Homo sapiens: one gene and its partner. The main gene of each other region encodes a partner of the protein of the gene in region 2 in a complex. Each region holds a gene or a part of one and is shown on either strand. Other genes may lie near its edges. The genes, in order: PRSS1 and SPINK1. A codon is read from its position in the direction of its gene.

Evidence for each region.
Region 1: the proteins of SPINK1 (region 2) and PRSS1 are in contact, whole or in part, in a crystal structure (PDB 7QE9), measured with the Homo sapiens proteins. Residues at the interface, in NP_001341895.1 of Homo sapiens: Tyr33, Glu35, Leu36, Asn37, Gly38, Cys39, Thr40, Lys41, Ile42, Tyr43, Asp44, Pro45, Pro55, Asn56, Val59, Phe62; in NP_002760.1 of Homo sapiens: Tyr45 (codon at 1,842), His46 (codon at 1,839), Phe47 (codon at 1,836), Cys48 (codon at 1,833), His63 (codon at 1,788), Cys64 (codon at 1,785), Lys66 (codon at 1,779), Arg101 (codon at 615), Lys102 (codon at 612), Thr103 (codon at 609), Leu104 (codon at 606), Tyr154 (codon at 53), Tyr175, Lys178, Asp194, Ser195, Cys196, Gln197, Gly198, Asp199, Val214, Ser215, Trp216, Gly217, Asp218, Gly219, Gly227.

What each region holds. Positions count from the first base shown.
Region 1 is NC_000007.14:142,744,827-142,752,488, reverse strand, and holds the start of PRSS1 (serine protease 1 preproprotein), read right to left. Parts: upstream 3,018-7,662; 5' UTR 3,005-3,017; coding exon 2,965-3,004; intron 1,935-2,964; coding exon 1,775-1,934; intron 716-1,774; coding exon 462-715; intron 59-461; coding exon 1-58. UniProt on the Homo sapiens protein: Has activity against the synthetic substrates Boc-Phe-Ser-Arg-Mec, Boc-Leu-Thr-Arg-Mec, Boc-Gln-Ala-Arg-Mec and Boc-Val-Pro-Arg-Mec. The single-chain form is more active than the two-chain form against all of these substrates.
Region 2 is NC_000005.10:147,824,076-147,828,937, reverse strand, and holds the end of SPINK1 (serine protease inhibitor Kazal-type 1 precursor), read left to right. Parts: intron 1-809; coding exon 810-916; intron 917-4,231; coding exon 4,232-4,277; 3' UTR 4,278-4,356; downstream 4,357-4,862. UniProt on the Homo sapiens protein: Serine protease inhibitor which exhibits anti-trypsin activity. In the pancreas, protects against trypsin-catalyzed premature activation of zymogens.

The DNA of each region.
Region 1 (7,662 bases), on a different chromosome or scaffold from region 2:
CACTTAGCCTGGCTCAGCACAGGAGCATCCAGGCACTGCAGCTCGTCTGGGTAGTCGGCTGTGAGGATCAGGAAGAGATCAAAGGAAGTAGAAATGTGGGTCAGGCCAGAGAAGGAGACAATAATCTTGGATGGAAAACTGAAGAGGAACACAGCCCCTGGAGAGGACTCCAGAACATAAGTCCTGGCAAGAGACTCTGGCTTTTAGTTCCCAGAATGATCATTGTTGAACCCCTCCCAAGATGTGATCATATCAAGTTCTCCATTTGTCCTGTCTCTTGATTTTAGGAGCCAAGTCCTTGATAGTTTGCATCTCTCTGGTGCCCAGTGCAGAGTCTGTGTGTAATGGGCACTCGAAATGTGTCTTAAGCCTGGAGGTGAGAGGATTCAAGTTAAGGGGCATGGTTTGTTCTGGAAATTGTGAGGATGGAGGGAAGTAGAAGGACTAAGGGTCCCACTCACCGCCAGAGCTCGCAGTGTTGCCCCAGCCAGAGATGAGGCACTTCGTGCCAGTGGCTGGAGGGGCGGTGGGCAGAGAGATGGTGGACACGCGGGCGTTGATTACTGCACGTGAGGAGAGCTTGATTAACATGATGTCATTGTTCAGAGTCTTCCTGTCGTATTGGGGGTGGCGGATGATCTTGGCTGCATTGATGAACTGCTCATTCCCCTCCAGGACTTCGATGTTGTGCTCTCCCAGTCTCACCTGGATGCGGCTGATGGGCAGGGCAGGCATGGTGAAGACCTTCTCCCACAGCCAGGGCACCTATCCCACCTTCCCCAGGTTCCTCAAGCTCTCTGCTCATGGACAGCTCTGGAGGCATGGGGTGGGGTGTGTGGCCATATCGCATGGGCAGCAGAGGGATGTGGGTCAGTGAAGGTATGAGACCCAGGACCTATCTGCTCCAGAGGTTGGTGGTAGTGGGGTGGGGAAGAGTCAAAGGGATCCCACCAGAGGCTGCTCCTCAACCTGCCTCCCCAGACTCTTTCCCACAATCTCCACAGTCACTAGCACTGTGGGCACAAGGAGCTCCTTGAAGTTTTCCCAGCGTTCTTCACCCCAGGCCTTTGCCAACTGTGCACAGTGCCTGTTCCTCCCTCCATTCTTGGCCTGGTGAGAACCACCCTTCTGTGTAATCTAATCCAAGGGTAGCCATAGCATTAGCATCTCCTGGGAACTTGTTAGAAATGTGAATTCTTGGTCCTTACCCCCACCTACTGATCAGAACCTTGGGGAAGGGGCCCAGTGATTTGTGCCTTAACAAGCCTGCAGGGCGTTCTGATGCATACTCAGGTTTGAGAGTTCTTGGTGTAGGCAGCAGTTCTCAGCTCTGTCTATACACTCTACAGTTAGCAGAGGTAGAGTGTAAAATTCTCACTGATATTCACACCCTCTTCCTGAAAATTTTGACTTAATTGCCCTGGGATAGGACAAAGGCATCTGTATTTTTAAAAAGTCTTTCTTAGTTGGCTTTAATGTGTAGCTAACCAGCAAAAGATACTTGCCTGCTTTTCTCACTAGCTCTCACCACCCCAAGATCATCCCTGCCTGCTTTTATGACCACAACCCTTGCTGTTTCATGGATTTGCCTGGGTGTGAGAGGTTCCTGTCTTGTGTTCACTCTCTGCTCTGGAGAGTCCGCAGCTGCCAACAAGTTTTCTTCTCCACCACCTCTCCCATCCATCTTACCCAACCTCAGTAGTTCCCTGGGCTGAAGCCAAGCTCTCCCAGGCAGACTGGCCGGGAGCTTTGCAGTCGGGGGCCCCACACTTACGACTTGTAGCAGTGGCCTGCTGATACCACCCACTGTTCGTTGATGAGGGAGCCACCACAGAAGTGGTAGCCAGAATTCAGGGACACCTGGTAGGGGACAGAATTCTCCTCACAGTTGTAGCCCCCAACGATCTTGTCATCATCATCAAAGGGGGCAGCAACTGGAGTGGAGATGGGAAGGGAGAAGGCAAGTCAATAGCATGTTAGGGGTGGCGCTCCCAGCCTGTGATTGCTTTCTGCTAATTAGAAATCCTTAACAAGCACAGTGAGGCTAGGCAAGGGAGGGAGCTCTGCCACCCCTGGTGATCATCACTGCCTGTGGCTCCCAAGTCTCTGTGCCTGCAGGGCACATAGCTAGGTACCCTGCGGAGGATCCGAGCTCTCCTGGGGTCACCAGGCTGAAGTCGCAAGGAATGTCCTCACAATGCTTCCAGTGGGATAGGAGTTGGGATGTGGTTGTCTCTCCCACTGAGTGCTTCTCTCTTTTATTCATCACCTGTGTACTTCCCCTGGCTATTTGGGCCCTGGATTGTCAGGATTCTTTTGCCAAGCTAGGAAAACCCCCTGTCTGCATAGACCTGGCCATGACCACCTTCCCCCATAGCTCAGATCTGTGCAGTCAGGGCAGAGTTGAGGGCAGCCCCCAGGCTCACTTTGGCAGAACAAAGGTAGACTTTGTTATTGGCCAATAGGACAGCAATTCTTAACCTTGGCTGCATGGCTGGAAATATTAAAAATCACCTGGGAAGCTTAAAAGCCCAGAACACAAGCTCTACCCCAGACAATTGAAGTTAGAATTTCTAGAGCTGAGTCTCTGGCATGAGTAATTTTTCAACCTCCCCAGGTGCATTCGAGGTTAGGAGCAGCTATAGTGGTGCTATTCTGTTGCTGTTGGAGCCAAGCCTGAAGCCTGCTGCTTCATTTCGTGGGACAGCCCCACCTGGCCCCCTTCCCAGCTTCTCCAACCACAACTCGGATATGGATGAATGACAGTGGTGGGAGTGAAGTCAAGGAGAAGGTGAACAGGTGAGACTTAAAAAGAGCCCAAGGAGGATGGGAAGGAGATATGCCAGATGGAGGAAACGGAATATCAGAGCACAGTCAAAAGAGGAGAGGTGGTAAGAATGGAAGGGCATTTGTCGGCCAGGAACGGGGGGGTGGTTGGGGCCTGAGGCAGGGCATGATACTCACGAGCAGCTGCCACAAAGGTAAGGATCAGGAGTGGATTCATGGTGGTAGAGTGTGCCTGACTGGTGGTGGAGGACTCGTCTTTATACCTCACGAGGATCCAGAGAGGAGGTGACTGTGAGGTGAGGGTCACCACTCCTCCCAGCACAAACACACCTGCAGCTTTCCTCTTCCCAGGGTCTTGCATCAGCCTGGCTATGTTTGGCCACTCTCTGGGTTTGTGATTCACAGGTGATAAGGAAACTTTCCTTCTGAGAGCAGAGAGCGAGACCGGCTGTTTCCTGCAAGGATACTGGGATGGGGAAGACAGGGAAAGTCAAGCCCCAGATAACAGAGCTGGGCTTTCTTAGGCCCTGGAGATGAGGGTTAGAAGGAGGGAGAATGGCCTAGCTGTTTACAAATCTTTCCACCTATTGGGAATGTATTTAATGTACTTAAGGAAGGGCAAGCATTGGTAAAAAGCTTGGATTTCAGTTTCCTGGGGCCCACATGAGAGGAGCAAAGTCTTATCTAAGGCTCATTCCTGTGAATATGAAGATGCTTCTCTCCAGTCAGTGTGCAGGAAGGTCAAATGCAAGATTTTGGGGAATGAAAATTCCAACACTAAGGGGTAAGGAGAAGGGAGACTCAGCATTCCATAGGATTCTGGGCTTCCAGATTTCTCTCCTTCCTACCAAGGCTTAAGGATGGGAAGTGTTTCAAAGAAGGAGGGGGCACAGTTTCTGTAGGAGCTTTCTCAGTGCCTCTGGAGGATGGAAAACCAATGGCGCACTCCTCCCCTTCTTCAATGTGAAGACATTTGTCTCTCTCATGTGCATCCTGTCATAGGTTCTTTTTATGCAGCCTCACTGTTGTCCTTGCAATCTGCACTCAGGTGATGCAAACTGACCCACCTGCTCAGGGCTGACAGTCTGAACCAGAATGATCAGATGATCATTTTCTATTTTCGATGCAGTGAGATTATGCTTGGCTCAGTACAAAGTGAATCTTCCTAGAGAATATCCTGATTTGGGCCCTACCAAGGCTACTAAGACACAGTTGTGTAATTGACTGAGGCACAACCTGGCCAGAGCAGTGTGGAAATGGAGATGCTGTCTGTGCTCAAGTCTAATGATGTAGGGAAAGGAGGAGCTTCCTTATGAGGGTGCTTTCCCTTCTCAGCAACTCTGAGCTCAGGCTGGTGATGGGCAGGAGTAAGTAGAGTTCAAGTTTGGATTCTTTGAAAGGTAAAAGAAGCAGAAATGTTCTAGAGACGGTGGACAAAATGGGAAAAGCTCAGAAACTTGGTGTTGAAATCGGACCTGGCCAGGGGGCTAGAGGGAGGAAGCAAATGGAAACCAGAGGGAATTGGAAATAATGCCAAAGTGGGGCCCATGGTGTTGAGAGGACACACAGAGTACCTTCGGTTTCAGCTCCTGGTATGGCTGCTGAGCCAGCTTCCCCACAGCCAGGAGACCCACTGCTTGGAGACCCCCTCTCCGCCTCGCACCCCCTCTAATCACTAATGGGCCCATACCTAACACTGCTATGCTTAGATGGTGCACAGTGCCTGACAACTTTACAAGAGTTTTCATGTAAGCAACAGTGGTACATTACTTTTCATTTATGCTGAGTTTCACACTTTAACTTCCCACAAACATGCTAATTGTAATTTGTGCAGAGCAAAATTGTTTCCATTTATAGAGCAAGAGACTGAGATTCAGAAGGATTCTGTCTTGCCCAAGAATACAGATCTTGGCAGAGCTGACCATAAGGCCAACAGAAGCCATGGAGAGCATTGTGAAGTGTGGGAATTTCATCTAAGAGGAGGTATCTAAAAGGAGATTTATTGAGGATCAAGACAGAGGTCCCTAGAGGACAAACTGTACATCTGATTCCTTCCTGGTGCTTTTCTTCCTGGTAGAAATGGATGATTGAATTTATCTTTCTCCTGGCACCTAGTCTCAGAGCATTACCATGCCACAGTTCGAGACCCATCCAGGCCATGACTGCCATGTAGATGACAAACTTCTCTGCTCACGAATAACTTGCCAAGCCTGAGGTAGCCAGGTTTTGGAGCATTGATAAAATGGGCTTTTCCTTTGTTGTCCCTGAACATGTTGTTTCATTTTGTCCCTTGTCATGGGGTCTTCACAGAACACCTGCCTTAGAGGATAAGGAGAGACTCCTGCTCTAACAACTGTAGATACTAGTGTGCACTAAACAGGGAGGTGAACCTTGGTAGAAGATGGAAAATTTTTTTGGAAAAGGGGATTTTTGGATCAGTGCTTGTGGCTCTGACTCTCAGTCTGAAAGGGAACACCCAAGAATTTGAGGATTTTCTGTATCTAGAGCTTGAAGACTAGCCTTCTCCAGTATTTTGCGCTCTTCCTTAAATGATCGCAAAATAGTCTGAGGTCAGCTTTCTTCAGAAAGGAATGACCTTACAGGCAGAGAAGATAGCTATAGGTGGAGACTGTTACCTCATACTGTAGACTCAGATGTGTAGGATAGGTTCAGATCCAGCTGCCAAAGCTCAATTTGGAGGACATGTCATTCTTGTTACTGTTCATTCTGAATTGTAGATTTCTTTGTCTACTTCTCAAGACATCTCTCTGGCTTGTATTTAGTGCTTAGCACACTAAACCACTTTCCTTTAATTTTGATAACAGTGAGTCTTTTCTGTGTGCTTACTATATACCACATAACTTACTCTACAGCATGTAACTCATGTAAGTTAAAAATGTTTTTTTCATTTTATCATCACAACCACCTATGGGATTGCCCATTTTACAGATGATCAAATGAACTTTCTGGAGGTGAAGTGGCTTGCTCAAGGCCACACAGCCAGGAGGTTTTAAAGATGGGATGTAAGTATGGTGGTCCGACTCTAGGGCCTCCATGCTGTGCAATAGGGCATTCTGCTTTGCCTCCTCTGAGCTGATCCTTAGTGCAGCCTCACTGAGGTGGTAGGCAGCAGATATTGTTCTCTCCTTTTTACAGATGAACAATCTAAAGCTCAGAGGTCAAGTGTCTTCTCCAGGGTTACTTGTCTAAGGAAAGCAGAGATCATACTAGAAACTTCCCTATTCAGACAAAGTTTGTTCCCCTTCATGTTGCTACAGAGTTGCGTCTTTCAGACCTAGTAGTCTGCAAACTGTCATATTCCAATTTTATTTTTTAACACTTTCTTCTCCAAATCCCACCAGATCTTTCTCCTACATTCTTACTGATCTCCTCCTTGGGTTCCAGTATCTTTTATCGTTCCCCAACCAGACTGTCAGATTTTAGGCTGTCTTACCCCCAAACTCCCAGCTCCTCTCCTCATCCATTTTTTTTTCTAAGCTACTTATCTCCCGCACAGCACAATTTCTCTTTATCCAATAAGGAATTATTTTCGTTACTATATCATCCCAGGAATCATTGAATCTGGAGAGTGAAGGGAGTGCTCTGTGTGACTCGGAAAAGTCTGACTTGTAAGATGGAGTCCCAGAGCATGAACTGGTCAAGGCTGATCAGCTAAACGGAGTAGCCCATTCCTCCCCGCCTGCCTCCCGCCCCTCCTCTTGACTGCCTCTTGCCCCTCCTTCTGCCTGCCCAGCTGCTCCCCAGCTTGAAGCCATGGAAGACATGCAAGTTTTATGCCCAGAGGGAAGTTTATAGTTCTGTTTATTCTTCAGGCTTCCATGTATGGGTAAATGGGGAAGCCTCTAGCACTTGACACTAAACCCACAGTATTTTAAGGATAGATTGATTGCTCTAATATAATGGTGAGTCTTTCTGTTCACATTTCAGCCACTCCTTGACCACTCTCTTGTTTGGCCTATTAGAGCTGCTTAAGTGAGTCCAGGCTCCCTTAGACAAGAAGCAGAAGAAAGCCAGGACAGAGTGCAGGAGAAACACCCATGTAGGTTCTTATTATTGTAACATCTAGGATCTGTTTCATGATACTCAGAGTTTAATATATGATGTATGCATTTATTTTTCTAAATTATGCTAGCTCTAGACTGAGGCTCACAAGCTAGGTTTGGTGATAAATCCAGTCAACTGGGTTCCTTCTACTCATGTAGTTTATAAAAGTCTAGACTGTGTCATCCATTTGGAAGGCAGCCAATGGGTCAGTCATTTCCTCAAGATCATCTTGGCCAGGAGGGCCTTCAAAAGGCTCCTAAGGCTCAGAATTGAATGCTCCATCCACACAGGCACCAACACAATTCCAATTGAGAACTTTCCACCCCAGGGCCACTGTGTTTGAGCAGGTTCTGCACTTTGCCTCTCTATAGAACCCATATCATCTGTTCCATTTCCCAGTCTTGGGTAAGGCAGCAGAACGGGGTTGGCACATGACATATGGACCTTTCTATTCAAATACAATGCTTGTTATCTGTAGTCCTCCTACAGTTCTGTAAAACACTGGAACTTATTCCTCCTATCTAGCTGTAATTTTGTGTCCTTTAATCTTTTTGTATCCTCCCCGCAACTAAAACATAAATTTAAAACAAGAATAAAAAATATAAAGTTTGAAGTGCTTATTCCTTTCCTGTTAGAATAATCTAGTTAATTTTCTTATGGGCTTAGATTATCTAAACTCAAATGCCTTTGTAGAGTTTTCCACCAGGGAAATCCACTGCAGCTGTATAAATTTTCCTCTTATCTTTGAAATGTATTTATTTACTCACAAATATTTATTGAATTCCTGGAGTGATATTCCAAGAGTTCTTC
Region 2 (4,862 bases):
TCCGAAGTAACTGAGGGGTTATTTTGAGCCAAAAAAAAAAAATGAGTGTTAGTAAAACAAAACTGGTGGGGAGATGTAGTAGAATAAAGTACTTAAGAGCTAAAGCTCAGGAACTCTGACTAGGTTTGAATTCTGAATTTAGGAATTCCTTAGCTGGGTGGCCTTGGCTAATTTTATTGCTTTGTGCCTCATTATCTTCACCTGAAGAAGAATATAATACTTAGTTCACAGGATAGTTAGGAGGTTTAAACAGAATAATATATAAAAAGCACTAGAACAATGTCTAGGACAATGACAATCATTTGATGATTATAAACTCTTACTGGAGTAGAATGCAAAGACTTCCAACACCCGACAATGCCTAGTGCCTTTAAGTGCCTAATAGAAGACCAGTGTGTGTGGACTACAGTGTACAAGGAAGAACGTGCCCCAAGATGTGGCCAACCTGAGAGATGCCAGCACCCGCAGTAATTGCAAACTTGAACATTATCTCACCCATCCATGTAAATCTCACAACAACACTATGAGATAGGTGGGAAATGGTAATATCATCACTGTTTTGCAGATGAACTGACTGAGTTTCAGAAGGGCCATAGGACTTACTAATGTCACACAGCTTAGAAATAGCAGAGGCATGACTTAAAACAAGGTTTTCTGTCTCCAGATAGTAGGTTATTTCTCTTACAACACACAGTATCATTCTCCCAATCACAGTTATTCCCCAGAGAAATAAAACCATTTCAGAGATTTTGCTATGAACTCAAGAATGGAGAATAATGGGAAATGATTCTGTTTAATTCCATTTTTAGGCCAAATGTTACAATGAACTTAATGGATGCACCAAGATATATGACCCTGTCTGTGGGACTGATGGAAATACTTATCCCAATGAATGCGTGTTATGTTTTGAAAATCGGTGAGTACAAACTTGAGTTTCTTTTAAACTATATATTTTAAGTTAGTTATCTTCAAGTGTACTGATAATATGAATCTCACCCCGAGAAAAGCAAACTATTTACTTTTTCCAAAAACAGTTATCTCTTTCTTATTCTCCCTTTTATATATTTAGCATTAAATATTATTTTTTAGAAGTCACTTGTATGATAAAAGCCTATATTTTTTACAGCAAAATAGTCGATAGCTTGGATTTTTATAAAGTACACACAAAATACCTTTAATTAAAAAAATTATTAGTGGTTGCAATGATTGTGTTTTTTAAAGCCCTCAGTTATGCAAATATAAATTGTATAGATTATATAACCAAAAATATATTTTTACTTATGGATATGAAAGCCAGTTTCAGTAAAGCTTCATTTCCTCAGTGACCATAAGTAGGTGATGTGATACAGAGAAATAGATTCAACACAGATTTCCTATCTCACTCAGCAACTGAAACCTTAGCATGTCTCAAGCATCATGCTAATATTCCCTGTCTTACTTGTGCTTATGACTAAGAAAACATCATGAGCATGTATAGGATGGCTTCTTATAACTTGGGGCAAATGCCAGAAGATGAGGTGTAAATAAAGTGCAACAGGAGTGAAGCAGAGATACATATTTTTTATTAAAAGGGGCCAAGAAAGGATCCATGAAAAGAATAGAATGCCAGCCGGGTGCAGTGGCTCACTCCTGTAATCCCAGCACTTTGGGAGGCCGATGCAGGTGGATCACCTGAGACCAGCCTGGCCAACATGGTGAAACCCCATGGTGGCGGGCGCCTATAATACCAGCTACTCAGGAGGCTGAGGCAGAAGAATCGCTTCAATCTGGGAGGCAGAGGTTGCAGTGAGCTGAGATTGTGCCACTGCACTCCAACCTGGGTGACAAGAGTGAGACTCCATCTTAAAAAAAAGGAAAAAAAAAGAATAGAATGCCATTTAAATAGAGTTCTGAATTTTGGCAATATCAAAAGAGCATGCCAGGTTAAATAAAGGTGTGGAATGAACAAAGCAAATAAAAGGGATTCCACGAGTGACTTTAGTTTTTCTGAGATTGACTTGATATTAAAGACTTTGACTCAGGCTCAAATGACTGTGTAAATTTCCATTATATTCTACTGCATAAATTCCCTTTTCTGTAATGCAAACCTTCTTCTTGGGCTGTTTTAAACCATTTTGGAAAATTCTCAGAGTTTAGCAAGTATTGTGGAAATAGGACCTCTGGATGAGAGGTCTAATATCCTGAAGTTTTAGACCCAAAACATTAGGTATTCTACTTTGTAATAAATCTGTTTCCATAATTAAGACTTGTAAAAAGAATTTGAAGCCACCTGTTAGTTTTCTCATGACCCATGTTCTTGACATTAAGCTCAAACATCATATTTCCATCCAATGGGAGGAGAAAGCAAGAGAACAACAGCTTTGAGACTTGGGAAATTTCCAAGTGCCGCTCAACATTTACAGTGAAACATTAGAAAAATATTAGTAGAGGGCTGGAACACCCTATCTGCTTAGCCTCTGAAACCTCCGAGTTTCTGCTTATTCTTTCTATTTGTTCAAAACTATGTAAATATGGGAGGCACATTTGTATGCTAGAAAACATGACCTCTCTTCCTATATTTCTCAGATAAGAAAATTTAGGTCTAGAGACAAAATGTTGCTTTCTCAAATACAACATATTTCCTAATGTATGACATTGCCTTTTTCACTGTTGATTAAAAGTCCCAAACTTATTACCTAGTAACTAAAGCCAGACGCTGACCCTAGTTTGAGACAAGTAGATAATACCAAACAAGGGCTTGCAAATCAGTCTTTTTGGTGATTATGTGCTTGGCAAATATATTCAATAAACACTTTTTCTATTCCTTCTACGTCTTCAAAGGGAATCTGTACCGGCAAATTCTTTTCCATAAACCTGCATCTCCAATAGAACCTTCTATAATGATGGAAATGTTCTATGTTTATGCTGTCTAATACATAGCCACTAGCCACAAAACAGTAGCCTTAATGTGGCTAACACTAACTTAAATGTGGCTAGTAAAACTGATCAGCTGAATATTTAATATTATCTAAACTAATTTACATTTACATAGCTATATGTGGATAGTGAATATATGAAACTAGAGTGAACAGCATAGCAACTCTTGTTTATTCTGTTTAGGTGTGTGTGCTTATGTATGCTAACTGATTTGGAAATCAGTATTAATGAGCAGTTAATGATTGTGGGACAAGAAAGCATTAAAAAATCTTAAAGAGTTTGGCTGGGCATGGTGGCTCATGCCTGTAATCCCAGCACTTTGGAAGTCCCAGGCAGGTGGATCACTTTTGTTAGGAGTTTGAGACCAGCCTGGCCAACATGGTAAAACCCCGTCTCTACTAAAAATACAAATATTAGCCAGGCATGGTGGCATTCACCTGTAATCCCAGCTACTTGGGAGGCTGAGGCAGGAGAATCACTTGAACCCGGGAGGTGGAGGCTGCAGTGAGCCAAGGTCACACCACTGCACTCCAGCCTGGGCAACAGAGTGAGACTCTGTCTTAAAAAAAGAAAAAAAAGAAAAAAAGAAAAGAAAAAAAAAAGAAAAAAAAGTATATGGAAGTCAGATGTCCTTCAGTAATAGAGAAGTAGAAGAATTTTTGTAAGCCCGTACATTCAAAGAAAAAATGGTTAGAAAAATTAAAGACCTGGAAACAGTCTTCTAGGGAACAATTATAAAATTTAGAGATATTTAGTTTAGGGAAGAGAAAACTAGTTTGGTAATGGTAGTGTGGGGCGAACAGAGAGGTTTTATCTGGAGGGGAGGATGTTTAGAACTGGCAGGAATCATGTGGAATAAATATGTGATTTACTTTTGTGAGACCTCACAGATACGAATCCCCAGAGCTCTAAGATGAAAGGTCAATCAATTAGAAGGTCCAACAATAGCTCAGGCATCAGCTGAGATGGAAACCTGGTGGCGAAGGCAGAGGCATCAGGAGCAAAAGATGCAACAATAGTTTTGAGTTTAATTTCAGGGGTTCACTGTAACACCCCACGAGATCTGTAAAAACTGTAAGGACAGATATTTTTCCTTTCTGTTGTATCCTTAGTGTATTCAACAGTAATCAATAAATATTTGATGAATTAATGACTAAGTGAATGTATAAATGAATGAAAGACAGAGAAAAGATTATAAATCTCAAACCTCTCCAACTTTAAATGAAGCTGTTATTTTTCCCCCTGTTTTTCTCCCATAGTCACTTTTTCATCAGTGAAGTTTAAGCTGATATATTTTTTTTAATCTCTACTGCAGGAAACGCCAGACTTCTATCCTCATTCAAAAATCTGGGCCTTGCTGAGAACCAAGGTTTTGAAATCCCATCAGGTCACCGCGAGGCCTGACTGGCCTTATTGTTGAATAAATGTATCTGAATATCCCCTGTTGTTTCCATTTGCTTTTTCCTCAAAGGTATGTTTGATTATACCAGGGTCAGGGGACTTTGGTAAGACTGAGAATAGACCAAGTTTTAAAAACATCAGGAATCCTGTAATTTCAGACAGGGTTTCCCTCATAATTCCTTTTCTTTCCTCATCTTTCTCACATCCTGAGGTCACTGCCTTAGAAAATGTGATTGCAGATATTAAATGGCAGAGCACAGATGATCATGAATACAAGAAATTCTTTGAGGACTGGACTACTATTTTAAGGAACAATTGGAAAATACCCAGTCCAGAAACATGTTACCCATCACAGTCTGCTGATTGCAATAACTCCTTTAGGTTTCCTTGGGATTTGATTGAGCATCTATTGTGGCTGGCACAGGTCTACGTGCATGGGCATAGAGCTGCCTATATGGTGGAATAGAGTTTAGTCTTTGAGATTTTCCACTTATCTCAGAATGTAGATTTTGGGTCAGACATAATTGTCTCAAAAAGATTTGAAT